Homo sapiens: one gene and its partners. The protein of the gene in region 1 purifies or fractionates together with the protein of each later gene. This does not show direct contact. Each region holds a gene or a part of one and is shown on either strand. Other genes may lie near its edges.

Region 1 (5,007 bases):
AGGAGTCCCAGACACCTGGGGCCACGCCGCACAGCAGGAGGTGAGCAGCGGCAAAGAGAGCACTGCCGTCTGAGCTCTGCCTCCTGTCAGATCAGCAGAGGCATCAGATTCTCACAGGAGCACAAACCTTATTGTGAACTACGCATGTGAAGAATCTAAGTTGTGTGTTCCTTATGGGAATCTAATGCCTCCAAAACCACCATATCCACACCCAACCCCCAATCCACAGAAAACTGTCTTCCATGAAACTGGTCCCCGGTGACAAAAAGGCTGAAGATCGCTGCTCTGAAGTTCAAGTATTTACAGATGAAATAATCAATGTCTTGGGATTAGATTCAAAATAATTGCACTGGGGGGACTAACAGATAAAACTAGACAGGCGATGAGATAACTGTTAAAGCTGAGCAGGGTACACGGGGACGTATTTTACTGATCCCTATTCCATCATGTTTTTAAATAAAAGCAAGAAGTAATATGTAGTAGTGTTAATAATTATAAAACAACTTGTATCTTATTACAGAAGCCAAGCAGAACTGACTATCAAATATTTTCTTATCTAACATTTATAACAACTGGATGAAAAATTTCAAAGGCTGTGTTTGTGCATGACTAAAAGAATCATATATCCAAAAATAAAAATGTATCTGCAAAAGAGCCAATCAAATATCTTGTACTGAAGTCCAAATCCCTTCTAATTATCACATATAAAAGTTGCCAATATATACTTACTGGAATCAGGCATAATGCGAAGGTCGCCTTCTTTGTAATCATCTAAGAGTTGGTACATGTACAAGACAGGGTCTTTCTCATAGGTAATGTAAAACCATGTGTTCATGACAGGTGCACGTGCTAAGACCATTCCCCTCCACTCATCTTTAGAACCATCCTCTGTCTCAAACATATGTTCCACTGCTTTGCCAATCATTGTGTCTGCCAAGTGTGCATCGCTGATTCGAGATGTCGCTGGGGATTAAAAAAAAAAAAAAAAAGTTGACAAAGTGTTTCGCTGATTACCGACTATGAAGACTGAATTTACTAAAGAAGGCTACACCTGAAATTTTGTCCATGCAACGTATTAGCAAGCATCAGAATCTGGGAAAGCTTTAAAAAGTACAAAAACCAAAGACAAACTACTGGGCCCCAGCTCAGAGATGGATTCAACAGAATAGAAGTATTTTGTCCCAAGTCAGTTAATTGAAAAAAATATGATTTTTTATTTTTCTGGACTCATCTGCTCTTGGTTCTGTACCCAAATCAAAAGTTTTAATTGTTCATTCAAGGTATAAAATACTGTTTGTTATTGTTTACTTAACAGTTAAATTTTGAGATAATTTCAGACTTACAGAAGAACTGGAAAAATAGTAGAGTTCCTGTATACGGTTCACTTTGCTTCTCCTGTATTAGCATCTTACATAACCACAGAACGTTTATTTAAAACTTAGAAAAGCTATTCAAGGCACAGAGGGTTTTTTTTTTGTTTTTTTTTTTTAAAGAAATTGGTGTTTGTTTTCCTTCAGTCTTATTTCCATTTTTTTATTAAGGCATAGGTTTTTACTCTCTTGCTCCTACAATCTTATTCTTCACTGCAACCAAAGTAATCGTTGTGTCACTGATACCACATTGTGTGATCTAAAATGTTCCCATGCCTTCCCTTTATAATTTGAAAAACAACCAAACTGCTCACCATAGCCCCCAAGCCCTAAAAGCCTTCACGCCTCTGCCCTCAGGTTTCCCATCTTCCTCCTTGTTGTTCATGCGTTCTCTACTCTGCTCTTCTTCCTCTCCCATTAGGACACACTCTCCTCTGCCTGATAAGCTCTTCCCCATACCTTCAGAAGGCCGGTTCCTTTTGGAGTTCTCCTGACCAACAAGGTAGCCCCACAAATCCCAGTCACATTACCCAATTTTACCTCTTAATAACATTCACCATGATCTAAAGTTATCCCACTTTATGTTATTTGTGTACTTGTTAGTTGCTTGTACATCCCCATGAAAGCAGAGACCTTCCCTTTCTTGTTTTATACCTAGATCATAGCAGGTCAGTATTTGTATGATTTAATCAGATACCCCATGTGGTTGGGAGCTCAGGTCTCTGAAATGATAGATTAACGGTCCTAGCCCTTAATATTTTTCAAAAGTGGTGAAAATTATCACCTTCATCTTTTTAATACTGGAAAAACTATGAAGGATCCCATTGGTTTTAAGACTTCTCCAGTCCACAATTTTAGATAACTGTCTTTATACCAAATTTAAACAATTATCTTTAAAAAACAAACAAACAAACAAACAAACAATTAGAGACAAGCACGGTGGCTCACGCCTGTAATCCTAGCACTTTGGGAGTCCAAGGCGGGCGAATCACTTGAGCCCAGAAGTTTGAGGCCAGCCTGGGCAACATGACAAAACCCCGTCTCTACTAAAAATACAAAAAATTAGCCAGGTGTGGCAGTGCAGGCCTGTAGTCCCAGCTACTGAGAAGGCTCAGGTGGTGAATCACCTAAACCCAGAGGTCGAGGCTGCAGTGAGACAAGATGGCGCCACTGCACTCCAGCCTGGGCTACGGGAGTGAGGCCCTGTCTTAACAACAACAAAAACAACAACAACAAACAATTAGCTCTCCTATTTTCCTCATTCAACAAACTTCTATTTCTGTTACATCAAAAGAAACAAAAAAGTGAGATTTTCTTGATACATGTATTGCTATTTAATTTTATCAGCAAACCCTAAACATGTATGGCTGGTTTTAAGTACGCAGTAATAATAAAAAATTACACAGAATTCCCCCCGTGTATGACAGTAAAAAAACCCCACTAGTTTCTTAAAGCCAGTAGATCTCAGACTTAGATCTCAGAACTCCATGTGCATTCTTAAAAATTACTGGCTGGGCACAGCGACTCACATCTATAATCCTAGCACTTTGAGCCCCAGGCAGGAGGATTGCTTGAGGCCAGGAGTTTGAGACCAGCCTGGGCAACATAATGAGATCTCATCTCTACAAAAAGTTAAAAATTAGCAGGGTACTGTGGTGAGTGCCTGTAGTCCCAGCAACTCAGGAGACTGAGGCAGGAGGACTGTTTGAGCTCAACGTGTTGAGACAGCAGTGAGCCCTGATCACACCACTATACTCCAGCCTGGGTGACAAAGCGAGATCCTGTCTCTAAAAAAAAAATTAAAACATAAATGGAAATTACTACAGACCTAAAAAAGCATCTGTTTACATAGATAATGCCTACCAATATTTACTACTTCAGAAAATGAAAAACAAATCTAGAAACATTTATTTAAAAATACCTATATATCAATGCATTTTAAATTAAAAATAACTATTTCCTATCAAAATACATTAAGAGTGGCTTAATTTTACATTTTTGCAAATCTCCTAATGTCTAGGTTTTAAAAAGAACAAGTAGATTCTCATATCTGCTTTAGCACTCAATCTGTTATGATCTGCTCTTTCAGTTCAGGTATAAAATCCAGCCTCTCAAAGATATGATACTGAAAAGAATATTCTAATCGTCTTTCAGATAATTCTAGATATACTTATATGAAACCACAGAATTCAACAGTTAGCTCCTTAAAGGTTAGTTACAATGCAGAATCTGAAACCATTAATAAATCTGTCATACTGTTACATTAAAACTCATGTCTCCAGAACATATAAAGAACTCTCACAACTCAACAAAAATCAAAATAACCTAATTAAAAAATGGTCAAAGGATGTGAGTAGATATTTCCCCAAAGATGATTTACAAGTGGCCAACAAGCACATAAAAAGATGCTCAATATCACTAATCATCAGAGAAATGCAAATCAAAACAAAATGAGGTATCGTATCACACCCATCAGGATGACCACTATGACAAAAACAGTAAATAGCAACTGCTGACTAAGGGATGGAGAACTGGAACCCTTGTATACTGTAGGTAGGACTGGAAAATGGTACAACTGCTGTGGAAAACAGTATGGTAGTTCTACCTAAGAAATTAGAATTACGATACTAAAATTAAAATTATAATTACCATATGATCCAGCAATCCCACTCCTGTGCCTATATCCAAAACAACTGAAAGCAGGATCTCAAAGAAATATCTGCATATCCATGTTTACAGGAGCACTATTCACAATTTTACATGGTACAATTTTACATTCTACCAAGAGGTAGAAGCAATCCAAATGTCCATTAATGGGTGAACAGATAAACAAACTGTGGTATATAGATACAATGGAATGTTCTTTTCAGCCTTAAAGGAAATCCTGTCACACGTTACAACATGAACCAACTTTGAGGACATTATGCTAAGTGAAATAAGTTACTCACAAAACAAATACTGTGTGATTCCACTTCTATGAGATATCTAGAATAGTCAAATTCATAGAGACAGAGTGTAGAATGGTGGTTGCCAGGGGCTGGGAATGGGAGGAAAGGTAGGTTGTTTTGTTTAATAGGTAGAGAGTTTCAGATTTGTAAGATGAAGTAGTTCTGGAGATCTGTTTCAACAATGCGAATGTACTTAACACACTACTGAACTGTACACTTAAAAATGGTTAGGACAGTAAATTTTATGCTATGTTTTTTTACAATTAAAAAAAAAGTAGTTAGTCTTGCACTTTGAATAGCTCTTTCACCAATGCATGATGTGGTACCATGCACTGCTCATAAAGAAAATATTGTGTTCACTAAGTTATGCAAATCTTCCAAATAGATAGTGGGAAACTCCACTGTGTAATTGAGAAAAAGAGAGAGTGAAAAGCGCGAATTACAGCTTAACAAAATGAAAATATTTCTGACCTTGCAAATCTCCTGAATGGGCTTCAGAGAACCCAAGGGTCCCCAGGCCTTGCTTTGGGAACCACTGCTCTGTGACATCACATGCATTCTGGCTGACTGACTTTTTTCTCTAACTTTAGCTTAAGAAAAACATAATTTTAATTATACTCTAATGTACTGCCTGAAGCAATTGCTTCCGACGTAAAACGTAAGTGAAGAGCAAGTAATTTTTTAGACTA
Region 2 (5,728 bases), on another chromosome or scaffold:
GAGGTGGGTAGAAGCTTTTCTGGCGGAGGGAAACCCTAGTGTCAAGGGAGAGCGCATGGAGTGAAGCACTTCCTGAGGCTGGAGCAGAAAGAGGAGATCCAGCAGAGCCAATGATAGGCTTTGCTGAGAATCCCTAAACAGCTCTTGATGCATTTAAAGAAGGCAATGCCAATCCATTAGAAAAGAACATTGGTGTCAAAACAGTCTTGTTTAAAGCTGAATACCTGTGTGCTCTCTTTGGCAGCACATATACTAAAACTGAAATGATACAGAGAAGATTAGCATGGCCCCTGCACAAGGATGATAGGCAAATTCATGAACTGTTCCATAGTAAAACAAACATACAAAAAGGCTGACTACGGCCAGGTGCAGTGGCTCACAACTGTAATCCTAGCACTTTGGGAGGCCAAGGCAGGTGGATTGCCTGAGCTCAGGCATTCAAGACCAGGCTGGGCAACACGGTGAAACCCCATCTCTAATAAAATACAAAAAATTAGTCGGGTGTGACCAGCCTGGGCAACACCATGAAACCCTGTCTCTACTAAAACACAAAAAATTGGCCAGGCATGGTGGACTGCGCCTGTAATCCCAGCTACTTGGGAGGTTGAGGCAGGAGAATTGCTTGAACCTGAGAGGCGGAGGTGCAGTGAGCAGAGCTCAAGCTCGCACCATTGCACTCCAGCCTGGGCGACAGAGTGAGACTCCGCCTCCAAAAAAAAAAATGCTGACTATCTGACTACACTCCTGTAATCTCAGCACTTTGGGAGGCAGAGGCCGGAGGATCGCTTAAGCCCGGGAGTTCAAGATCAGCGTGGGCAACATAATGAGACCCCTATCTCTACAAAACAATTCAAATATTAGCTGGGCCTGGTGGCACACGCCTGTGGTCCCAGCTACATGGGAGGATTCCTTGAGCCCAAGAGATTGAGGCTGCAGTGAGCTATGATAGCACCACTGGACTCCAGCCTGGGAGAAAGAGCAAGACCGTCTATATATATATATAATTTTTAAATTTATTTTTAATTTAATTAATTTATTTATTTTTTGAGACGGAGACAGAGTCTCGCTCTGTCGCCCAGGCTAGAGTGCAATGGTGCAATCTCGGCTCACTGCAACCTCCACCTCCCGGGTTCAAGCAATTCTCCTGCCTCGGCCTACCGAGTAGCTGGCGTTACAGGCACCTGCCATCATGCCTGGGTAATTTTCGTATTTTTGTAGAGATGGGGTTTCACCATGTTGGCCAGGCTGGTCTTGAACTCTAACCTCAGGTGATTCACCCACCTTGACCTCCCAAAGTGCTGAGATTACAGGTGTGAACCACCGCGCCTGGCCAAGACCGTCTATAAAACAACTGAATAACCAGCTGAATAAAAGCTGAATAACCAGCATCCAACACATTATCTGGTACGTAGCTACATTGTGTAAATCACTGGTGAATTCAATAAGCACAAATAACAAAAAAAGAAAAAAAAATGAATTCAATAAGCACGTGTACTTTGAAAATGTATTTTAGGCAGGGCGCGGTGGTGATCCCAGCACTTTGGGAGGCTGAGGCAGGTGGATCACTTATGCTAGGGAGTTTGAGACCAGCCTGGCCAACATGATGAAACCCGGTCTCTACTAAAAATACAAAAATTAGCCGGGCGCAGTGGCTCACGCCTGTAATCCTAGCACTTTGGGAGGCCGAGGCGGGCGGTTCACTTTAGGTCAAGAGTTCGAGACCAGCCTGGCCAACATGGTGAAACCCCGTCTCTACTAAAAATACAAAAATTAGCCGGGCATGGTGGTGCGCGCCTGTGCTCCCAGCTACTCAGGAGGCTGAGGTAGAAGAATCGCTTGAACCCGGGAGGCGGAGGTTACAGTGAGCTGAGATCGCGCCATTGCACTCCAGCCTGGGCGACAAAATCGAGGCTCCGTTTCAAAAAAAAAAAAAATTAGCCGGACAGTGGTGGCGGGTGCCTGTAGTCCCCGCTACTGGGGAGGCTGAGGTAGGAGAATCTCTTGAATCCAGGGGGTGGAGGCTGCAGTGAGCCGAGATCGTGCCACTGCACCCCAGCCTGGGAGACAGAGCGAGACAACGTCTCAAAAAAAAAAAATGCCAAAAGTAATTTCCCCTAGGGAGGCATGGGGTGTTCCTTTCTCGGCACGCAGGCCCCTAAAATCCCTTCGGGCGGGCGGGTGTGGGGAGACCAGGCGGCTGGGAGACCCAGGCGGTGTTAGGGGTTGCGAGCAGCCTCGCTCAACTGGGGAATTGGCGGCAAGACTGCCAGGAGGCGGAACCTAGGGCGCTCGGCGACGCGGTCCTGCGGACTGTCGCTAGTGAGGCACCCGCCGGCCCGGAAGGGGCTGATGCGAACTGGGGCCACGGCAGCCATCGCGCTTTGCAGTTCGGTCTCCTGGTGTACGGCCAACGCCAAGTAGGGGATTGCGTTCCCTCCAGTCGCAGGTGAGTGACAGCCCCTCCTTCTGGGAGGACCGGTGGGCAGCAGCTATGGATCCCCTAGAAGGCGCACTTTTAGGGCCAAGACCTACTCTGAGTCCCTGCCTGTGGCACTGCGTGAAGGGGCGCCTGTTTTTCACCCCGGGGTTAGGCGGCGCGAGGGAGGACAGGTCTCATCCATGCTCCGCGGGGCCGTCTGATAGCCCTCGAGGCAGAACACTGCTGCTGTCAGACGCTTGGTCTTTTCAGGAAAGAACGAGGTGGCTGCAGGCAAGCCCCTTCCTTCCCCTGGGCCTCAGTTTCCTTACCTGGTAAGGTGAAGGTGGCGGGTCTCACTGACAGCTGAAGAGGCTGTGACACGGCCTGGTGTTTTCAGCGCTCCCAATTAGTGTAGAGGCAAATTGAGCTTCCTTACTAGTACTGGTTAACGTTTTCCGTAGCCCAAAGTCCCAGTTAAGTGGAAAAAAGATACACTGTTGAGAAAACTGTACTGATTTTTGTTTTAATTTTTTAAATTTTTGTTGTTGTTTTGAGACAGAGTTTCCCTCTTGTCGCCCAGGCTGGAGTGAAGTGGCACGATCTCGGCTTACTGCAAGCTCCGCCTCCCGGGTTCACGCCATTCTCCTGCCTCAGCCTCCCGAGTAGCTGGGACTACAGGTGCCCGCCACCACGCACCGCTAATTTTTTTGTATTTTTTAGTAGAGATGGGGTTTCACCGTGTTAGCCAGGATGGTCTCTTATCTCCTGACCTCGTGATCCGCCTGCCTCGGCCTCCCAAAGTGCTGGGATTATAGGCGTGAGCCACCGCATCCGGTCTAACTTTTCTATTTTTAGTAGAGATGGGATTTCTCTATGTTGGCCAGTCTGGTCTCCAACTCCTGACCTCAGGTGATCTGCTCGCCTCGGCCTCCCAAAGTGCTGGGATTAAAGGCATGAGCCACCTCAGTGGGCCACTGTACTGATTTTTAAGGTGTTGAAGCTTTTCCAAGAAGATTTGTTTTAAAACAGCTAAAACTTTGACATTGTTAGCTGAAAGAACCAAATTCGTCAGCAATTTAAGGTGTTTGGTACAGTGGACAAAATGAGGTGAAGAAGTCCTTTTAACTTGAAAAATTAAACATAGTATTATTTATTTGTGTGTTCTTACATCAGCCTCTATATTACTAAGTGTCTTTGAAGACGTCCTATATTCCGTGTTAAAGTATCAGTGAAGAGTAGGTCACATTGAAACAATGAAAGAAGGAAAGAAAAGGAACATTTATTGACTACTATGAGTAAGGCACTAGCTGTCATTTTACAGATGACAAATAAATGGTGGTGCCAGTATAGCAAAGCAACATGATTATCTACTATTATACCTTTCAGTAGACTTGTGTCTGTCACCAAAATGTTTTGAACTTAAAAAATGTTAAGATAGTTCATTGGCATTTTCTGAGTTTGTAGAAAAGGAAGGTGTCTTCATTTTAGAAATGTCAGAGATGCACTGTCAGTAATTACAAAGATTAGCAGTTTAAATAAGGTATATTTTAACCTTCCTTTGACTTGCATTATTGTACTGGAATAGAAATTCAAGCAAGAATTAAGAAAAAAGATGAGTCTAACAGAAATGAAAATCAGCCTGGGCAACATAGCAAGACCCAGTCTCTACATTAAAAAAAAAAAAATTTGCTGGGTGCAGGGCCCTGGCTAGCAGGCCAGTAGTCCCAGCTACTCGCTGCTGAGATGGGGGGTTTGCTTGAAGCCAGGTCAAGACTACAGTGACCTGTGATCATGCCACTGCACTCCAGCCTGGGTGAAAGAAAAAGACATTGTTGCTAAAAAAAAAAAAAAAAAAAAAAAAAAAAGAAAAAAAAAGAAATAGAAAAGGAAATGAAAATCATTGCCACATCATTTGAAGCTTACAAGTTGGAATGCTATATTAGTATTTCTTTTCTTTTTTCTTTTTTTTTTTTTTTGAGACGGAGTCTCGCTCTATCGCCCAGGCTGGAGTGCAGTGGCTCCAGGCTGACTGCAACCTCCACCTCCAGGGTTCAAGTGATTCTCCTGCCTCAGCCTCTCAAGTAGCTAGGATTACAGGCATGCACCACCACATCCTGCTGATTTTTGTATTTTTAGTAGAGATGGGGTTTCACCATGTTGGCCAGGCTGGTCTTGAACTCCCGAACTCAAGTGATCTGTCCGGCTTGGCCTCCTAAAGTGCTTGGATTACAGGCGTGAGCCACTGTGTCCTGCTATAGGTGTATTTCTACACTTACTTTTTTTTTTTTTTTTTTTTTTGAGATAGAGTTTCGCTCTTGTTGCCCAGGCTGGAGTGCAATGGCGTGATCTCCAGCTCACTGCAACCTCTGCCTCCTGGGTTCAAGCGATTCTCCTGCCTCAGCCTCCCGAGTAGCTGGGATTACAGGCATACACCACCACACTCAGCTAATCTTGTATTTTTAGTAGAAACAAGATTTTTCCTTTTTGGTCAGGCTGGTCTCGAACTCCCAACCTCAGGTGATCCGCCCCCCTCAGCCTCCCAAAGTGCTGGGATTACAGGCGTGAGCCACCTCCCCCAGCCTTCTACACTCATTTCGTTAAGTACTCACTTGGCTGAGCATAGTATTTCTACGCTCGCTCACTTTAAATACTCATCCCAACTCGGGGTTTCACTATGTTGGCCAGGCTGGTCTCGAACTCCTGACCTCAAGTGATCTGCCTGCCTTGGCCTCCTAAAGTGCTGAGATTACAGATATGAGCCACTGTGCCCAGCCCTCACCTTGGCCACTCTTAAAAATTTTCTACTATTTATATTTGTCATGGTTTTATCCTTCGTTTTCTTTTTCTTTTTTTTCTTTTTTTTTTTTTTGAGACAGAATGTTGCCCTGTTGCCTAGGCTGGAGTGCAGTGCCACGATCTTGGCTCACTGCAACCTCCGTCTCCCGGGTTCAAGCAATTCTCATACCTCAGCTTCCTGAGTAGATGGAACTACAGGTGCCTACCACCACACCCAGCTAATTGTTTTTTTTTGTTTGTTTGTTTGTTTGTTTGTTTTTTTGAGATGGAGTCTTGCTCTGTCGCCCAGGCTGGAGTGCAGTGGCGCGATCTTGGCTCACTGCAACCTCTGCCTCCCAGGTTCAAGCGATTCTCCTGCCTCAGCCTCCTGAGTAGCTGGGATTACAGGTGCACGCCACCATGCCCAGCTAATTTTTGTATTTTTAGTAGAGAAGGTGTTTTACCATGTTAGTCAGGCTGGTCTTGAACTCCTGACCTCGTGATCTGCCCGCCTCGGCCTCCCAAAGTGCTGGG
Region 3 (4,891 bases), on another chromosome or scaffold:
CGGGTTCCTGTTTTCGAGACAAACCGTTCCCATGGGGCTAACCCGGCCCGGGACCGGGCGTCTTCCTGCAGGCAGCGGGTGGCACAGGCCTAGTGGAGGTCGGGGGCGTGGGGACAGCTGGTCCTTGAGATAGTCTGGGGGATGGGCTAGGACAAGATGGGAATATTTTGGGGAGAGGGACCTGTGGGGAGCGAGGAATGAAATCGTGGCTATCTGGAGACGCGGCCTTGATGTCTGGGAATGGGGGCGGGGGGCCCAGTTCACACAGGAGGAACGGGGCCCCGGAAGCCTGGCTCCCCACAGGGTCGAATGGAAAGGGGCAGCCGCATGTGGCGGTGGGTTCTCCGCAGCTCGGAGACTGGAGACCTGGATGCCTGGCCAACAGGGAGGAACTTGGGAGGGGCAGCCGCAGGCGGTTGGGGTCCCCACTAGCCGGGCCTAGGAGAGCGGGTAACGGTTTCCGACCATTTGGCTTCAGACACACTCACTGTGAAACCACCGACCCCAAACCTCCCTTCCGAGGCGTGCCCCTCCCAGCCTTGGGGCGGGGGATCCAGGACCGCCCCCGCACCTCAGTCTTGGTAATGTAAGACTTAGAAACAGGACCTTTCTGTTCCTCAGTTTCCCCATAATGAGGGCCTAGACTAGGCGGTCTGCGAGTGTTCCCTGCCGTAACACTCCCCCGACTTTGGATCCAGTGTAGCCACCTGCTAAGAGACCCTTAAACGCCGCAGTAGGGCGGGGCTAAGGGCGGAGCCAAGAAGGCGCCGAGCATCCTCTGCTTCCTCCCCCTCCTGGGTCCTGCCCTCGACAGCGCGGATCCTCCGTGGTCCGGGAAGCCTCAGCCCAAGTCCCGGCTCCCAGCCCCGGTGGGCCCCACCCAGGCAGACGCCCCGCCCCCGGCCAGCGAGGCTGGCCGCTGACCTAGTATGGACACGGCACTGGGAAGAGAGGCGTGGAGGGTGACGCCAGGAAAGGGGCTGGAGAGGCCTAGGCCCCGCCCCCACGGGTCGCCCCCTCCACCTCCCATCACCGTCCCGCCGTGGGACGCACCTGCCGAGGGTGGAGGATAAGGGGGTGACTGCGCGGCTGCTGTTGAGCCCGCCAAGAGCTAAAAATATTTCCCAACAAAGAGGAGTAAGGAGGCTCCCAAGGAGAATGAATTTATTAGGGAGTGGGTGCAGTTGGTCAGACCCCATAAATAGGAGGGGACCGGGAGCCCGAGGACGGAAGGGGGCCCGTGTCCTTAGTCACGCTGGACACTGGGACATTGAGAGTGGGGAAAATGAGGGTTCCAGGAGGGGCTTAGAGATCTAACTCCAGTACCCCACCCTCTGCATGAGGTGCTGGGGCTGGCCCAAGAGAGTGTGACAGACTCAAGGGCTGGTTTGGGGTCTGGTCTGGAGGCTCAGATGGCCTCATCCGGGGCTGGCAGGCGCTGGCGGGAAGGCTCCACACCCCAGATCTCCCGGGCATACTGGGCAATGGTGCGGTCACTGGAGAACTTGCCAGAGGTGGCTATGTTCCGGATCACCATCCGCGTCCACTCTCTTGGGTTCTGCAGGTCAAAGGGAAGCTCTGGTTCACTCTGCTGGCAGGATCTCCACCTTCTGCCTCATCCCAACCAGGGCCACCAAAGCCCTGCCAACCCCTGGCCCAGGACCCCTCACCTTGTACAAGGCGCTGACTTTCTCCTGGCATTTAATGTAGTCTTCATAATCTGCGAAGACTTTAAACCTGGAGGGGAAAGGATAGGCATGTGCTATTCCTTTAGGGGGCTAGGATAAGTTCTATGAGGTCAAGGGCCAAGCCTGCCCTGTCCCAGTGGACAGCCGGGGACCTAGAGGGTCATGCTGCTTCCAAAGGCGCCTGGCTCCAACTACCAGGACCCGCGTCCGGCTTCCCCACCACACACCTGAGCCTCGATCTGCCCTGCGGCCCCACCTGAGTGATTCCCGGGCCAACCAGCTCACCGGTCATGGTGCATGAGCATATTGACAATGTCCTTGAACAGGTCGGGCTGTTTGGGGGAGAAGAAGCCACTGCTCAGCTGCTCAATGACCTGCCGAAGCTCAGGAATGCGATCGTAGTACTCCTGGGCATTGTACCTGCCAGGACAGAGCTGTGGTCAGCTCCCCGGAAAGGGGTTCCTGGCTCCTCTTCCAGAGAAAAGCTGAGAAGTCCCATGCCCCAGGGTCAAAACCCAGGTCCAGCCTGCTGCTCCCCAGGGCTGCCACATCGCCCCTGCAGGGCCTCCCTGCAACTCCCCTTCTCTGCTCAGCTTTTCATCCCTCCTTTGTGAATGAAGAAACTGAGGCCCGGAGGATACAGAAAGCTAAGTGTTAGAGCCAAGGCCCCCAAACAAGCTCTTTTCTCCCACACGCCACTGCTGTCTCTTAACCAGTTTGTTTGCTCCAAAATGGCTTTTCTCCTCCAGTAGCCCAAGTCCATATCCGGCCTTGCCCTGGGGCAGCAAGAGCAGCTAACAGGTACAACCCTTCAACTGGGCCAGGCATGGTGGCTCACGCCTGTAATCCCAGCACTTTGGGAGGCCGAGGTGGGCGGATCATCTGAGGAGGTCAGGAGTTCAAGACCAACCTGGCCAACATGGTGAAACCCAGTCTCTACAAAAATACAAAAAGTAGCCGGGCATGGTGTCGTGTGCCTGTAATCCCAGCTCCTCGGGAGGCTGAGGTGGAAGAATCACTTGAACCCGGGAGGCGGAGGTTGCAGTGAACCGAGATCATGCCATTGCACTCCAGCCTGGGCAACAGAGCAAGACTCCATCTCAAAAAAAAAAAAAAAGATAACCCTTCAGCTGACCCTCAGCGCCCCCACCACGGCTCAAAGCGCTCCACAGGCCAGTCTCAAAACCTAACCGTTCCAACCAGAAACCAGCGCTCCCCACAAAATCTCTAATCCCTCGTGCGACTCTCTAGTCCCTTGTGCGACTCTCAGGCAACTCTCCCTGCATTATGGTGTCAGCCCCCACAGTGGTCCCCCACCTGCCCCCTCCAGCACTGTCTCCATCCTGCAGCCAGAGGGTTCTTCCAGGCCTCGTTCTGAGCATGCGGGACCATGCTCACAACATCTCACAGCTCCCTCCTGCCCATGGGACAGCCAGCTTTCTAGTGAAGCCTCACAGGAGACACTTCTTTCAGTGTTTAATGCCAACTCTGGGAAGCTGTTGTGGGAGTGTAAACTGGGAGAAACTTTCTGGAAAGCAGTTTGGCAATCTGTATCAAGAGCCTTAAGAACTCATACTTTTTAACTCAGAAATATCACCCTTCTGATAATTATCTTAAGGAAATCATCAGATGTGGACGTAGACATTAAAAGGTTGCTCATCACAGTAATATTTAACAAACCGGAAATTAACCTTAGTGTCCAGCCACATGGAATTGATTAAATAAGTTGTGACATGCTCATAGGATGGAATGTTATACAAACATTTAAAATATTTTTGAAGACTAATAACATGGAAAATCTCTCTCCAATGCTAAGATATCAGGATTCAAGCAGGGCGCGGTGGCTCACGCCTGTAAACCCAGCACTTTGGGAGGCCGAGGCGGGTGGATTACTTGAGGTCAGGAGTTCAAGACCAGCCTGGCCAACATGATGAAACCCCATCTCTACAAAAATACAAAAATTACCTGGGCGTGATGGTGGGTGCCTGTAATCCCAGCTACTCGGGAGGCTGAGGTGAGAGAATCACTTGAACCTGGGAGGCGGAGGTTGCAGTGAGCCAAAATCATGCCATTGCACTCCAGCCTAGGTGACAGAGTGACTCTGTCTCAAAAACATAAAAATAAATAGGCCAGGCGCAGTGGCTCACCCCTGTAAGCCCAGCACTTGGGAGGCCGAGGAGGGTGGATCACCTGAGGTCAGGAGATAGAGACCATCCTGGCCAAAATGATGAAACCCCGTCTCTACTAAAAATACAAAAATTAGCTGGGCGTGGTGGTGGGTATCTGTAATCCCAGCTACTCAGGAGGCTGAGGCAGGAGAATCGCTTGTACCCGGGCGGTGGAGGTTGCGGTGAGCCAAGATCGTGCCATTGCACTGCGGCCTGGGTGACAGAGCAAGACTCCATCTCAAAACAAAACAAAAGGCCGGGCGCAGTGGCTCACGCCTGTAATCCCAGCACTTTGGGAGGCCGAGGCAGGCAGATCACGAGGTCAGCAGATCGAGACCATCCTGGCTAACATGGTGAAACCCCGTCTCTACTAAAAATGCAAAAAATTAGCCAGGCGTGGCAGCAGGTGCCTGTAGTCCCAGCTACTCGGGAGGTAGAGGCAGGAGAATGGTGTGAACCCAGGAGGCGGAGCTTGCAGTGAGCCAAGATCGCGCCACTGCACTCCAGCCTGGGTGACAGAGCGAGACTCCGTCTCAAAAAAAAAAATACATTAAAATAAAATAAAATAAAATTTTTTAATGTAATGCCAGGATAATGTCTTCTCTGAAGAACTGTTTCTGACCATAGGCCCCTTGTAACTACTGTGCCCATATTTCCCTTTTGCCCATGGCTTTCAGGGAGCAAGGATTTTTTTTTTTTTTTTTGAGGCAGAGTCTCACTCTGTTACCCAGGCTGGAGCGCAGTGGCGCGATCTCGGCTCACTGCAAGCTCCGCCTCCTGGATTCACACCATTCTCCTGCCTCAGCCTCCCGATCAGCTGGGACTACAGGCGCCTGCCAACACGCCCGGCTAATTTTTTGTATTTTTAGTAGAGATGGGGTTTCACCGTGTTAGCCAGGATGGTCTGGATCTCTTGACCTTGTGATCCGCCCGCCTTGGCCTCCCAAAGTGCTGGGATTACAGGTGTGAGCCACCGCACCCGGCGTAGAGCAAGGATTTTTTTACTTCCATTTCCCAAACAATATTATCTCTTAG
Region 4 (5,007 bases), on another chromosome or scaffold:
AATTTCTCTGTTGTAAATTGACAGACGTTCAAAAGTCAAATTTTCTTAGCCATGGAACCCTTTGTTCAAACAGACTTTTAGATGGAAGACCAATTGTTAAAACAGGTAAAAGTAGGGAGTGTAGTGGGGAACTCTAGAACCACTTTTGTCTTTCCCTTTTTCTTGCTGTTCCATGATTGCCTCCAAGAGAGATTCACCAAGTATAACTCAGTAATCTCGATGATCTGAATAAAAGTTGTGGTTTTGGACTGGACTCAGTTGTCAAACCAGTGATAATTACCTCTTGTCACTTTTAGCTTTATTTATTAGAAAAAAAATCACATAAAACTTTATCTCTGACACAGTGCAGAATCATGATATACTGCGATAATCATATTCTTCACATTACTTATTTAAACCAAGCCAGCCAAGTCATGAAACAGGACCTTATCCTTTATTTGCTTGAGGTTTATGATTCAATTGAGTGTAACTAAGGATTTTTTTTTCTTTCTGTTCCAAGCTTTATGAGAAACTTTTTTCCTAAACTAACAACTAGTATCACTTATATAATAGAGTATATTAATTCTTCCAGAGATTGAGCTTGAAGTAGTTTTGTTAAGTGAAGCGTCTCTTCATCCTGGTTTCCAGTAGAAAATGTCTATACTTATGCTACAGAAAGAAATGTCATTTGAAAATAAATTTTTAAAACGTTTTCAACAAAATAATACTAAAAGATTAATGCCTGGCACTGGGGTGGTCAGTACTCTTTGGATGATGACTAATCATGATTTTTATTAATAAGGAGTAACATAGTCACACAGTAAAGGAACATCTAGGAGCCTCCAGAGTGTGACAGATTATGACATTCTAGGTTTAGGCTGCATCGTTCTATGGAGAGACATTGTGATTTAATTTCAATTTTTATGAACCAGTTCTGGGGCCAAGGAGCTGTGCTAATTGCTAGAGATTGAGATATAAATAACCCCTATATATGCTTTAGAAAATGTTACTGTCTCGTAGGGAGATGTAAACATATATAAAATAGTCTTTTTAAAATGTATTAGTATTTTTCCCAGAGTACCCTGTGAGCAAAGAGGAGAGGCATTATCTTCCTATTTCCAAACTTCATCTTTCTCAAAGAGAGTCAATTGCACATTATCCTGTCCTTAATTCTCCCTTGTCTGGAAATCTTCTAGAGAATTGAATCCATTTTTGCTGCTTTGTGGTGGCCCAAAAAGGCAGCCTGATATTCAGATATTGTTCTACTTTTGGTCCAGATTAACATGTCCTCAGATTATTTTTATAGGCTGTAGCATTATTTATCCCTTTGGGTGTTATTGCAAATCGGCTAATGGATAACAAAGATACATAAACATAATTCAGTAGTCTCCAAACTTAACTGTTTAATATTAATATCTTTTTATCGTCAGATCTTTCAGTTGGCTAGGGGTTCTAGTGAGTGTTGCTGATAAGAAGCATAGCCAGACTCAGGACGAACAGAATAAGTGGAAACCTATCCCCAAACCATAGGCCCATTATCTTATTTCCTGGGGTTCACATTCATCTTTCCCTAGTGTATCTAACTATATACCAGTAACTATGACAAAACCTTGACTTTCCTAACCGTAGGAACTGCATGGCATTGACAGCTTATATCCTTGAGATTTCCTTGGATTTTAGTTTTTCAAACACACTGGTTAACTCATTTGTATCTTTTTTCTTTTGTGTAACATCTTTTATCTCCTTGTGTAAGGAGGAGCAATACCATTAACCAATAAGTATATTGTCATTGGCTAATAAGGAAAAAGAGGAGCAATAAAGACTATATCATAAATGATTCTTGCTTTTGCAGGTATTTTGACAGAGATGTTAAATGCATTAAAGATTTCTTTATGAAACGTTTCAGCTACGAAAGTGAGCTTTTTCCAACTTTTAAGGATATCAGGTTTGTACTCCCCATTGCTTTACATAATAGAACAGTTTAAATATCTGGTCTGTGTATTTCTAAAAATTAACATTTTCATCTAAAAAACTTTCCAAATTTTGACACGTAATCACTGTTAGATGTCATTGCTCTGTAGTACATAACTGAAACTTAAAAACTTGAAAATACCTGCATTTGGTCCATTAAGGCACTGTTACTGAATTTTAGGAAGCGGACATATCTAGATTCTTATAAATTCAAGAACTTTTATTCTATTTTGGATGCTATTTGAGTAACTCATTCATAAGGAATAACACCAAACATTCATTGAAATTTGTGTTTTTCCTTTATCAAGGACCAGGAGGTATCTTTAATTGATTCTCAAAACATAACTATCATGTGCATTCTCAAAGCTCAGTTTTCTCATATTTATTTTATACACTTAAGATATTTTCTGATCTGGGATGAGTCACATAATCTGAAGGAAATCCTTAGCCCCCTTTGAAAGTTAATTTACAAAGTTAATAAACATAAGCTGAGGTTTTTATAACCTTTTTATTTATATTGTTGCTTTTCAGTTATTTTATTCTTAAAATGACAGCCAGCATATACCTTTCATATTTGTTTACCTGTGTCATTTAAATATTACATTTTAGGGAAGGAAAATTTATTTTTAACATATAAGCTATTAAACTCACTTGAATCATAATTTATCAGAGTAGTAGATATTTGCTCCTCTTAGATAAACATTTTTTCTCTCTTTCTATGCTTGACGCCTTTTTTTTCTAGGAGAGAAGACACTCTTGATGTGGAGGTTTCTGCCAGTGGCTACACAAAGGAAATGCAGGCAGATGATGAACTGCTTCATCCATTAGGTCCAGATGATAAAAATATTGAAACAAAAGAGGGATCTGAATTCTCATTTTCAGATGGAGAAGTGGCAGAAAAAGCAGAGGTTTACGGGTCAGAAAATGAAAGTGAACGGAACTGTCTAGAAGAATCAGAGGGCTGCTATTGCAGATCATCTGGAGACCCTGAACAAATAAAGGAAGACAGTTTATCAGAAGAGAGTGCTGATGCACGGAGTTTTGAAATGACTGAATTCAATCAAGCTTTAGAAGAAATAAAAGGGCAGGTTGTTGAAAACAACTCTGTAACTGAATTTTCTGAGGAGAAAAACAGAACTGAAAATTACAACAGGCAAGATGGTCAGAGAGTTCAAGGAGGAGTCCCTGCTGGCTCTGACGAGTATGAAGATGAATGCCCTCATCTAATTGCCTTGTCGTCATTAAATAGAGAATTCAGGCCTTTCAGGTATAGACTTCTGTCGATTGCTTTTTAACTTTAGTCTTGAGACTGATACTTTGTTAGATTCTAGTAAAAGAATGTTTTTTTCAAATGATGTGACAAAATTGTATTCTGCCACCTTGATGTATAAAATGAAAGCCAAATAATTTTTTGTTGTTAAAAACTCAAAATAGCTTCCTTTTCAATTGACCTGATTCTAGGCAGCCTATTGACTAAATTTCAAGTAATTCTGCCTTAAAATACAAACTGATGGCTGGGCACAGTGGCTCGCTCATGCCTGTAATCTCAGCACTTCTGGGAGGCCAAGGCAGGCAAATCACCTGAGGTCAGGAGTTTGAGACCAGCCAGGCCAACATGGCAAAACCCTGTCTCTACTAAAAATATAAAAATTAACCGGGCATGGTGGCCTGTGCTTGTAATCCCAGCTACTTGGGAGACTGAGGCAGGAGAATCACTTGAACCTGGGAGGCAGAGGTTGCAGTAAGCCAAAGATCGTACCACTGCACTCCAGCCTGGGTGACGAGCAAAAAACTCCGTCTCAAAAATATATATATATATACAAACTGATGATTTTAAAATTATTGCAGGTCTCTGGATACATTGATCAGGTTTTAGATGGATGAGTTATTCCTCATATATTTTCCTAATTACACATCTGATGTGTGTTTGAGTTATGTAAAGGCATGTAAATATTAAAACATGCAATAAATGTACTTTCTATATGAAACATCTGCAGTGAATTTTCTCTAGTACCTTGAGCCTTCTATCCTTTGTTCATGTGTAGTTAAAATTATCTAATGATATTATGTTTTCTTTTAATAATTTTTTTTTGTAAATATTAATCAGGCTCAGCTTAGATTAGGAAAAGTTCTAAAACTTAATTTTTGGATTTGGGATTGCTTATTCAGAATCAAATTGTAGTTAAATGAAATATTGGTTTTATTTATTTCAAAATAGTAATATGACAATTAAAATTAGTTCAGCAATACATTTATTAAACATTTTTCAGTACATGTTTGGGCTTATATCTTAAGCCTACCTTTATCTTTAAAGTTTTATTCCTGAAGCAAAACATGAGAATTTTGTTCCTTTTTCATATAGCTGTGTATCTGTGTCACAGGGCTACTGCCATTTAAATAATAAACTTGGAAAATTAAATCAGAAGCTTAAAAGGAAAAGAGGGGTGACAGAGGCTCAGGATTTTGAGTAAGTGATTGTATTAGACTGGATTCTTCAAAGAAACAGAATAAATAGGAGATTTATTTTAAGGAATTAGCCCATGGGGTTATGGAGGCTGAGAAGTCCCAGGATCTGTAGTCAACAAGCTAGAGACCAAGGAGAGCCCATGGTACAGTTCCAGTCCAAATCCAAAGAGCTAAGAACCAGAAGAGACAATAGCATAAGTTCCAGTCCACATCCAAAGAAAGGAGAGGACCCATGTCCCAGTTCAAAGACAGTTCTCTCTTACTTTGCCTTTTTGTTCTCATCAGGCCTTCAATGGATTGGATGAGGTCCACCCACACTGGGGAGGGCAATCTGCTATACTCAGTTTATTGATTCAGAAACGCCCTCAAAGACACACCCAAGTTAATGTTTAACCAAATATATGGCACCCTGAGGCCCAGTCAAGTTAACATATAAAATTAACCATCACAGTGATAGAAGAAAATCTATATAGGATTAAATGGTCTTTTAAACTCAGAATGGGAACAATAATTTTGTTCCCACTCTGGATACATGCTGGGCAAAACTTCCATTCAAAGTAAAAGCAGAACAGCAGATGTTGCTGAAAAATA
Region 5 (5,007 bases), on another chromosome or scaffold:
AAACTTCTGTCATACAAATTTTAAGAGAATCAAAGATACTCAGTTAAAAAGAAACCAGTCATGAAAATGCCTTCTTATCATGCTAAAAAGTTTAGCTATACAAATGGTTAAAAGAAGCTATCAGTTTTTATTGCTTCTGTTTTTTCAACAAATATTTATTGGATTTATTAGGTGCTAAGTTTACCAAATTATTTAAAACCATATATATTTTTTACCAGAATTATTCCAACTCATTTATACTTAGTATACTACTTTAATAAACCTAGTTTAGAGGAAAGAACCCTGGAGGCCTGAGAGCTAACCTTCCTTGTTATTAACTAGCAGTATGACCTTAGGCAGCCAAATCCCTGCTCCATGACTGTTCCCTCATTATAAAACCAAAAGAACTGGCAGTCTCTAAGCATCCTTCCCACTGTAAAAGGGAGGGTATTCTAGTTCTATTCAATTAAGTTATGTGTGTATAGTATTATACAGCATAGTGGTTAAGAGTTAGGCCTCCACCAGGAGAATGGCGTGAACCCGGGAGGTGGAGCTTGCAGTGAGCCGAGATCACGCCACTGCACTCCAGCCTGGGCGACAGAGTGAGACTCCATCTCAAAAAAAAAAAAAAAAAAATTACTAGCTGCAGCACTATAGTCACATTACTTAACTTCTCTGTGCCTTAGTTTCCTCACTTGTAAGACAGGGATAATAACAGTTCCTATTTTATAGAGCTTATATGAGGATAAGATGAGAAACGCAAGTAAAGTACTTAAAACAGTGCTGGACACAATAAATGATTTTTAAAAATTAGCTATTATTACAACAGGCAGAGTGGGCTAGGCGCCTGTAATCCCAGCACTTTGGGAGGCCGAGGCAGGTGGATCGCTTGAGCTCAGGAGTTCAAGACCAGCCTGGGCAATTGGGCAACATGGTGAAACCCCATCTCTACAAAAAAAAAAAAAAAAAAAAAATCAACAAAATTAGCTGGGTGTGGTGGCACATGCCTATAGTTCCAGCTACTTGCGGGGATGAGGTGGGGGGATCATTTGAGGCCTGGAGGTCGAGGCTGCGGTGAGCCATGATCATGCCACAGCACTCCAGCCTGGGCGACAGAGTGAGACCCTGTCTCAAAAAAATAAGTAATAATAATAGGCAGAGTGCCTAGCACACAGCAGGTTCACCAGTGAAGAGCTGTACCAAGGAAATGACACATAAGCTATCTTGGAAGATGCAAAGGAGCCAGCTAGGCAGGGTAGGGGTAGAGGCAGCAGGGAGAGGGCATTTCAGTCAGGATGGATAGCAAATAGCAAAACTTAGAGGTGGGAAGAGGAGTAGGAGAGGCCATCCAAGACGCAACTCCTGCAGATGAGGCAATCGCCATATCCTGCAGTCCTAAGAAAGCAGTGAAGGCTTCTTAACTGTATTCCAAGTGCAAAAGGCCACAGGAAAGTGGCATGGCCAGATTTATGCTTCTAAACTGTTGCTGTGTGGAGAACAGATCAGAACTACCAATGGTAGTTTGGCCATAAACTGAAAAAAGCCAATGCTCACAATTAACAACTGTAAGCAAATTCTTAAAAGTTACTTGTATTATTTAATGCCCAACCACCGTTTAAAGAGGGACTGTACCTTATTATAAATTAATTAAGGAGACAGTATGTGGTATATTACAGCAAGGACAAAAATGAGGGGTCACTGTGTGAAATGTAAATACATGTTTCATGTGCTAACAGCCTTCACTGTGAATATGAATATAAGAATTTAAACAGCTTCCCAATGTTCTTCCCTGAAAGTGGATGTTAGCCTAAAATGAGTCATCAAGCTGTAGCCACAATAGTCCCACTCACTTACATAATCCAGAAAACACTGCACTTAATGACATTATATGTTACTTTTGTATTTAATCTAGCAGAATCAGAGGTAAATTAATTGCCAACTCTAGAAATTTGTTTTTACTCAGACCTTTCCCATTCAAAGCCTAGGAACATACCTTATGTGCTCCCAGTCGACACCTTCAAAAAAGGGATGACCTTTTATTTCTTCTACTCCACTATTTCCAATTCTGTTTTCAGAATCAATACAAAATCTACAACATGGAAACAGAGAAATTATCATACACAAGTTACATCTAAAGTATTCTAGCTGCATTACTTCAAATATTTCTTTTTTAAAGAAATATAATGTTTTTCTTTTATTGATGTTAACTATGTTTATTGTAGGAAATGTGGAAGAAAATAAAAATCATCTGTAAGCGCACTGTTTAGAGATAACTACTGTAAATATGCTAATCTTTTACAATATTAAAAATACTGTGTTGCTACCATAGTTACTATGTTAGGTCTGCTTTTTTTCACTTGATATACTGAGAAAATTTGCCAAAGTCATTAAATATTTTTCAATAAATTTTTTTTTCGTTTGTTTGTGAGACGGAGTCTCGCTCTGTCACACAGGCTGGAGTGCAGTGGCGTGATCTCAGCTCACTGCAAGCTCCACCTCCCGGGTTCATGTCATTCTCCTGCCTCAGCCTCCCAAGTAGCTGGGACTACAGGCGCCCGCCACCTCGCCCGGCTAATTTTTTGTATTTTTAGTAGAGACGGGGTTTCACCATGTTAGCCAGGATGGTTTTGATTTCCTGACCTTGTGATCTGCCCAACTCGGCCTCCCAGAGTGTTGGGATTCCAGGCATGAGCTGCTGTGCCCAGCCAATAAATTTGTTTTCTAAAATTTACATATAGAGGTATTATAGACAGTCTACTATTGAGCCAGTCCACTACTGTTGAACATTTAAATAGTTTTCAATTTTCACTATTAAATACCATGAAAATCATAGTGTACCTAAATCTTTATACGTATCTGATTATCTGCATAAGCGAAATCCCTAGAAGTAGAACTTCTGGGTCAAAGGTCATACATAGTTTAGGGATTTTAAAAAAATAATATGCTGCCAACTGGCTATTCCCACAAGTTGTCCCAATTTATATTCCTTCCAGCCATTCACAGCAGTACCAAAACACTTCATATTAGTTGAGGAACACATGGAATTTTTTGCTTAGAAGATTTTACATATATACTTTTCATGACAGGAATCTGCTATTAACATTTTCCTTTTTCTCTTTAATGGAATCAGGTCATTGCATTCTAACAGAAGTGACCTTTTGCTTTTATATATATCAGTAACAGAAGCAATACAAGACTTCCTCCCTCTTTTTAATTCCTACGTTTTTTTCTGCATACTTCCTTTTAAGAGTTTACATTTTTAAAAACACCTTTATTGATCTCTTTGACTGTATACATCAGTGGTATCCCCTCTTCCCCCACAAAAGTGAAATGAGTCTTTTAGGTTCTTAGGAAGTTTTAAGACACTATGAACTCCTCTAGGAATTTAACCACTAACCTGAGAATTAAGTCCTTGGCTTTCTCAGATATAGGTACCTCTGGAGGAAATACCAGAGTTTCTTTCCAGTTCATCACTTTTCTGTACGTTTCTTGAGGTGTTTCAGAGCAGAAAGGTGGATATCCTATGTATCAAATAAATCAAAAATGTTTCATCAGCTTTGTGAGCAGTGAAGTTTATACCCACCAAACATGTGCGACAAGAAACCAAACAACCCTGAGTGCTCTATTTAACAGTCAAAAATGCCACCATTCATCAATTTACAATCACGTTGCTAATAAAGTCAATAAAATAAAGGATTGAAAGCACTGCCTCCCCTTTTACCTGAAAAGCTATGTAGATAACCACTTTTATACGTGGGAGTTTGGGTTAAATACCCACCTTCCTGAAACAGGATCCGTGGGGAGCTCACTGGTATTGATCAGTATGTATTTAACATTGGGGGAACATCAGAATTAAGCTTAAAAGACTTCAAATATTTTAGTCAATGATATCTGTAATATGTTCAAACAATGGCACTCAAGGAAATGTATATATTTTGTACATAAATGAATGATAAAACATACCTATTAGCATTTCATACATAATCACTCCCAAAGACCACCAGTCACACAATTTGTTGTAACCAGTCTGCATGAATACTTCTGGAGCAATGTAATCTGGTGTCCCAACTGTGGAATATGCCTACAAAGGAGCAACTCGTCAAACCAGCATTCTTAACATTTAAAAAATATCTATCTGAGGATGGCTTACTACTGGAAAAAGCAATATATAGAGGAGTTAAATTTTCACTTGTATTTATTTTGCATGTTTATCATGTGCAAGGCTTAGTGGTAGGTAGTGAGTCAGATAATATGTTATAGACTACTATTTTTCAGTCTATTTACTTTCCTGAGGGAATGCTGAATTAGTTTTCCTTTCATCACTTAGTTGAACAAATATTTATAGAGTGTCCATATGTGCCAGGCATTTTATAAGAATATATCATTTCTGCCCCCACAAGAAGCTCAGTTAAGTTATTTATATATATAGCCTTCAGTCTATTTCAAAAAGAATGAAAAAGTTGAACCTAGAAGACCTGGCTTCCCCACTCACTACTAATGTGTTCTTGGGCAAATTATTCAATTTCTCTGAGGCTCAGCTTCTGCTTACATAAAACTAGAATAATAATACCTGCCCTAATAGAGTTGATATGAAGATGAAACAATAAACGGCATGTGTTTTGTAAACTACAAACTACAAAAATAAGCATGAGGTATTTTCATTATAAATGTAATTCCAGGGTACTGCTTATCCTTTAGGAAGCTATGCAGTTTTTAATTCTTAATTCATATAAAATCTTACAAAAATGATTTCTACAAGGCAGTAATTCTCAACCAGGGGTAGTACTCTTGGGGCCATGGCAAAATGTAGGACCACAGATTTTGTCATCTCAGTGACATAACTGGCATTTACAGGGCAGGGGATCCAGGTGCTAAAGAAATTTCCTGCCCCAAACACTGAGTCCTCTCTACTTCTCCCTTGGGAAACACTCGATCTAAGGCTTGGCAACTACTGGCCATGAGAATAATAAAACACACACCTGAGTAATCACCCATGAATATTTTGTAAATAGGGGGGTACAGAATTCC
Region 6 (5,007 bases), on another chromosome or scaffold:
ACTGATGAAAAAAATAATAAAAAAAGTTGTCCTGCCCCACAGCTCTGTAGTACCACTTTTGTTATAAATCGGTATCCATATATGTATAGAGTCTGTTTCTAGACGCTATACTGTTGCACTGATCTATTTGTCTATTCATATACCACTGTTACATTGTGTTAATCACTATAGGTTTATAAATGTCTTGATAACTGTGAGTCTTCCAACTTTGTTGTTTTTGAAGATTGTCATAGCTGTTTTTGACTTTTGAATATTTATTTTTGAATCAGTTTCTCAATTTTGAAGAGATTTATTAACTATTATTTAGGTGTAAGTAAATTGAGTATTTGCAAATACTATCCTCCTGAAAAAGTGATCTTCAGAGCTTTCTCTTTGGGGATATAGCATGGTGATAGAATTATACCTGCCTGAAAATAATCAGTCAGATTCATGAAACGTACACTGATTGCCTACGTTTTAGATACCATGCCATATGATGTTCTAAATGATGTAGTTACAAAGACGAATCAAGCTTTGTCTATATCTTCATGGATTTTATAATTCATTTAATTATTGACATGTAATAAATATGATTATAACTATTTTATCTGCTTCTCTTTGGATTATCTCTAGTAAGAATAAGTTTCCAGGAATGTAAAAGAAAATTGGTCAGTACTGAGTTGAAATATGTAACTGTCAGTGTCAGAAACAGGGATTTAGAATTGTGAAGTTACTGACAGGAAGGATTCTTGTGTAGCACAGAGCTTGGTATTACAGTCTCACAGTTCATTATCTAAAACCCTTGAGAATAACTAGGCTTCCTAATTCAGAATTTTTCAGAATTCAGAAAGGTAATACTGTATATATGCATACACACATACACATTACATCTGTGATTATGTAATACCTTTCTGGGTCAGCATTCCATAATCTGTCACAAAAGTATTTCTGCAGTGAAACAAATGAATATTCATACTAAGTGGATAAAAAAAGGTCATAACCTACCATTAGGTTTGGTGTTACTGCCAAATTAATTTTAACAACAAACTTAGGAACACAACTTTCACTTTCCAGGATGTTTTTGAATTTTGAGTAAAAAGGATTGTGAACCTGTATAATACAGTCAGTAAGTGTATATTTATCTGTTCACTGCAGTTGGACTGTCTCTCTAAAATCCTGGCTCTGACCCTTGCCAACAACTTCTATACTTCTCTAAACTTCTGTTTTCTCATTAAGAAAATGGATAGTACCTCATGGGGTTGTTACCAGAGGTATTTGAGGTAATAGATACAAAGCATTTAACAGCATCGGGTGTGTAATAAGTATTCAAACATTAATTTTTGTAACAACAAACTTTTTGTATTTTCAGTATTCTAGCTACAGAAATCTTTTCCATAAAGATTTATGCTTGAGTTTTTATAATTATTATCAGGAAGAAGATTGTGAGAAAGCATTCTTCAAAATGGACAATGTGCTTATAGATGACAGAAGAATACATGTGGATTTTAGCCAGTCGGTTGCAAAGGTTAAATGGAAAGGAAAAGGTATGATGGTTTATCTTTTGTTTTTGTTCTGCTTTTTTTTTTTTTTTGAGATGGAGTCTCGCTCTGTTGCCCAGGCTGGAGTGCAGTGGCACGATCTTGGTTCACTGCAACCTGTGTCTCCCAGGTTCAAGCCATTCTCATGCCTCAGCCTCCCAAGCAGCTGGGATTACAAGCATGTGCCACCATGCCCAGCTAATTTTTGTATTTTTAGTAGAGATGGGGTTTCACCACGTTGGCCAGGCTGGTCTCGAACTCCTGACCTCAGGTAATCCACCGCCTTGGCCTCTCAAAGTGCTGGGATTACAGGCGTGAGCCACTGCGCCCGGCCTTGTTTTTGTTATGCTTTTCATGCTTGTATGAGCCTTTTATTGAGTGCTGTTAATTAGGAGAAATATTAATTGATGTAACTCCTGCCATTTGTAATTTTACAAACCTGCTATCTAGAATCTGAGGTAGAGTGTGTGTGTGTGTGTGTGTGCACACACATGCATGTGTGCACCTGTGCGTGTATTTTAAACTGATGAAAAATTATATTTTCTATGTTTGACTATATTATAAATTACTAATAATTACCCACTGCAGACATGATATGTTTCCAAAGTAATTATTTTGACTTTATGGTGTTTTGAGTCTTTTAGGTGCACAACTTAAATTTTTTTTGTTTGTTTTAGTTGTCATATGATGCAAAATAGAAAAGGTCCATGGAAAGGTAGATAAAAGTCTCATTCATTCCTGCTCCTCATCTATCTAATTTCTCTTCCAGGGTAACCATTATCACCTATTGGTACTAACTTTCCCCTACATTTTTTGAATACATATGTGCATATATATATATATGATTTTCTCCTTTTAAAAAGGAAAATATAAAACAAAGGATGCAGGCTATACATACTGTTTTTGTACCTTGCATTTTTTAATTAACAGTGTATCTAAGAGATCAGTTCATATCAGTATATAAAATGAACCAGCCCTGTTAATGGGTTTTCTAAATTTTTACTCTTCCATGTCCATAGCAGTATGTTCCACCTTTGTACATATTACATTTCCCACATACACATACATATATGTCAAATACATTGCTCGTAGCATGTCAGTCTTAAAAGTTGGGTCTCTCATATGTTGAAATAATACGAGTTTTTGGTTTTTGATGCAGTGTTTTTAACAGGTTTCACTTTGATAGTTACTCACATGTAATGCTAAATTTTACTGGGAATTTCAGGGTTACTTTCTTTTTCTATAACACTTATTTCCCATGCTTTTAATGAACTGTTTTTTTTGTCTGTTTTTAGTAAGAAAGAAAAACACTATTTAGTTGTGAATTGCTGAATTGTTTGGTGGATTCTGTTACCTTATGGGAGTTCAGAGAAGGAAGAAATTATTAATGTGACTAAAGTAGGCAAGGAATGTTGAGTGGAAGCTGTGATCTCTGTGATAAAGGAGAGGGTGACTTGGATTGGAGTTCCATGTACTATTAGTTTCTCCTGTGAAACCTTACCTCCTCCTAGAACACATGGCTAGTTTTTGACAGTGCTGTTTGAGTGATTTGTGAAACCTAAATTGAAGCACTAAGATTTTTTTCCACATATGAAAATTACAACTTTGTGAATGAAAGATTCCAGTAAGTATATTCAAAGTGTTGGTGAGCTGCTGGCCTGATGCAGTGTAGTTCTGGCCAGTAGTAATGCCAGGTGGCTCTTATGTAGAGCTCTGCTTCCAAAGAGCTAGTTTAATTGTATCATTTGGGAAGTGTATGAAATAAATATTATAATTCCTCATTATAGATATGGAATTTGAGGCATAATCTTGAGAAGTGATTTACCTAGAGTCACATACACAGATGATTTAGACAGACCCTACATTTGGTTTGTTTTTTACCCTCTCAATCCTGTCTTCTTCTCAACCCATCCACCCATTGAATAAATACTACTACTTTCTTGTGACTTTTAAATAAATTTCTTCATGTTTTTTCCTAAGATAAAATGTCACATAGGAGGGAGAAGCTTTGGTTTTGTATATGCCATCATAAACATACAGTTTATTATTCTCAGTTAATTTTGAGATAATTATATATGTTATTGATTCACATTTATAAACTTAATGTGTATAATGTGCCATTCACAGCACTAAGAACTTTCCTTTATAGTCTGATGATTCCAGCAACTCTGTGAAATGTTGGTATTATTTTCAGTTTATAAATGAAGATAATGTAAATAAAGATAATGAATTGCAGAGAAGTGGTGTCTTACCTAGGACCTCCCACTACAGTCAAGAACCTCTTACATTAATCTGGTGCCCTTTCTGTTATACGGTAACTGCTTCATCCATAGTGAGACTTTTAATGGCAGGCAGATGGCAAATAATTTTTCAATGATAAATGATGGCTGTTTGTTACCATTACCAGTTATTTTAACTCTTGCAGTAGACTGTTTCACATTTATGGGAAACATTGCTGGCCACTTTTGTTTCTGGAGTCTCTGGAATTGCCAAATAGATTGATCTTGTCTTTTTTGCTTACCCTATGGGTCCCCCTTTAAAACCCTGACAATCAAGGTACACATAGGATTCTCAGTCAAAACCTCTGTCTGTACCTCCAGTTTGTTTTACTTCTACATTTAATCTAGGACCCTTCTGTAGGAAGCCTTTCTACAAACAGCATTTCCTAGTGGTGTGGTTGAGGGATAGGAAAGGCAGGGCAGTCAACAGGTCTGGGACATGGATGCGAATTGAATTCTCATCTGGTAGGAGACTTGAAAATTGAATTCTCATCTGATAGGAGACTAGAGTTGAGAGTAGAGAGGCTGCATTGAATGCTCTTCCTTTCTAGCCCTACCAAGCTAGTTAGGATGTAGCAGTAGGTCCTATTTTCCTGAGGGGATTTTTGGCACTTGGGAGGAATGAAGTTGCCCCTAAGTTAGAATTTCAAAGTAGAGACAGTTTGTCTTTGGTGCTATTACCCACCCTCTCCTCTCACAGCTGTTTGGTGATCTTCTGCACATCCTGCCCTCTTCTATTTGCCTGATGCTCTGTTGCCATTTAGCAGAGTATCTCTTGTTAAATCTTTTTTTTTTGAAACGGAGTTTCGCACTGTCGCTCAGGCTGGAGTGCAGTGGCACGATCTCGGCTCACTGCAACCTCTGCCTCCCAGGTTCACGCGATCCTCCTGCCTCAGCCTCCCGAGTAGATGGGATTACAGGCACACACTATCTCGTTAGATCTTTAAAAGGTCTCTTAAAGTCTCACTTCTCTCAAACTTAGGTCTTTCAGATCTTAAACTCAGGTCCCAAATCCTCAGTTTTCCACTGGACTTAATGTTCTCATGGGCTCAATGGCTCTACTTGAACACGGCATTTGTGTGTAATTTATTTGAAAGTTTGATGTTGTAATATTCACATATATCGTTAGGTGGCAGCATGTGGCTACCTAGCAAAAATGGATGTCTGATTTCAAATTAGTAATGGAGATGGAATTACTATGATTCTTTTGT

The links.
Region 2: the proteins of SPIN1 (region 1) and SAR1B purify together in Homo sapiens (affinity purification with mass spectrometry; one large-scale study listed by BioGRID and IntAct). This does not show direct contact.
Region 3: the proteins of SPIN1 (region 1) and PYGM purify together in Homo sapiens (affinity purification with mass spectrometry; one large-scale study listed by BioGRID and IntAct). This does not show direct contact.
Region 4: the proteins of SPIN1 (region 1) and RIOK2 purify together in Homo sapiens (affinity purification with mass spectrometry; one large-scale study listed by BioGRID and IntAct). This does not show direct contact.
Region 5: the proteins of SPIN1 (region 1) and STK38L purify together in Homo sapiens (affinity purification with mass spectrometry, with the first as the bait; one large-scale study listed by BioGRID). This does not show direct contact.
Region 6: the proteins of SPIN1 (region 1) and PPIL4 purify together in Homo sapiens (affinity purification with mass spectrometry, with the first as the bait; one large-scale study listed by BioGRID). This does not show direct contact.

Annotation. Positions count from the first base shown.
Region 1 is NC_000009.12:88,464,328-88,469,334, reverse strand, and holds part of SPIN1 (spindlin-1), read right to left. Parts: intron 964-5,007; coding exon 730-963; intron 1-729. UniProt on the Homo sapiens protein: Chromatin reader that specifically recognizes and binds histone H3 both trimethylated at 'Lys-4' and 'Lys-9' (H3K4me3K9me3) and is involved in piRNA-mediated retrotransposon silencing during spermatogenesis.
Region 2 is NC_000005.10:134,629,446-134,635,173, reverse strand, and holds the start of SAR1B (small COPII coat GTPase SAR1B), read left to right. Parts: upstream 1-2,345; 5' UTR 2,346-2,446; intron 2,447-2,974; exon of another isoform or gene 2,975-3,097; intron 3,098-5,728. UniProt on the Homo sapiens protein: Small GTPase that cycles between an active GTP-bound and an inactive GDP-bound state and mainly functions in vesicle-mediated endoplasmic reticulum (ER) to Golgi transport.
Region 3 is NC_000011.10:64,745,251-64,750,141, forward strand, and holds the end of PYGM (glycogen phosphorylase, muscle form), read right to left. Parts: intron 2,109-4,891; coding exon 1,974-2,108; intron 1,738-1,973; coding exon 1,671-1,737; intron 1,559-1,670; coding exon 1,409-1,558; 3' UTR 1,148-1,408; downstream 1-1,147. UniProt on the Homo sapiens protein: Allosteric enzyme that catalyzes the rate-limiting step in glycogen catabolism, the phosphorolytic cleavage of glycogen to produce glucose-1-phosphate, and plays a central role in maintaining cellular and organismal glucose homeostasis.
Region 4 is NC_000005.10:97,165,677-97,170,683, reverse strand, and holds part of RIOK2 (serine/threonine-protein kinase RIO2), read left to right. Parts: intron 1-1,831; coding exon 1,832-1,924; intron 1,925-2,692; coding exon 2,693-3,217; coding exon of another isoform or gene 3,218-3,245; exon of another isoform or gene 3,246-3,938; intron 3,939-5,007. UniProt on the Homo sapiens protein: Serine/threonine-protein kinase involved in the final steps of cytoplasmic maturation of the 40S ribosomal subunit. Involved in export of the 40S pre-ribosome particles (pre-40S) from the nucleus to the cytoplasm.
Region 5 is NC_000012.12:27,316,389-27,321,395, reverse strand, and holds part of STK38L (serine/threonine-protein kinase 38-like), read right to left. Parts: intron 4,061-5,007; coding exon 3,943-4,060; intron 3,501-3,942; coding exon 3,377-3,500; intron 2,069-3,376; coding exon 1,973-2,068; intron 1-1,972. UniProt on the Homo sapiens protein: Involved in the regulation of structural processes in differentiating and mature neuronal cells.
Region 6 is NC_000006.12:149,517,576-149,522,582, reverse strand, and holds part of PPIL4 (peptidyl-prolyl cis-trans isomerase-like 4), read left to right. Parts: intron 1-1,411; coding exon 1,412-1,523; intron 1,524-5,007. UniProt on the Homo sapiens protein: PPIases accelerate the folding of proteins. It catalyzes the cis-trans isomerization of proline imidic peptide bonds in oligopeptides.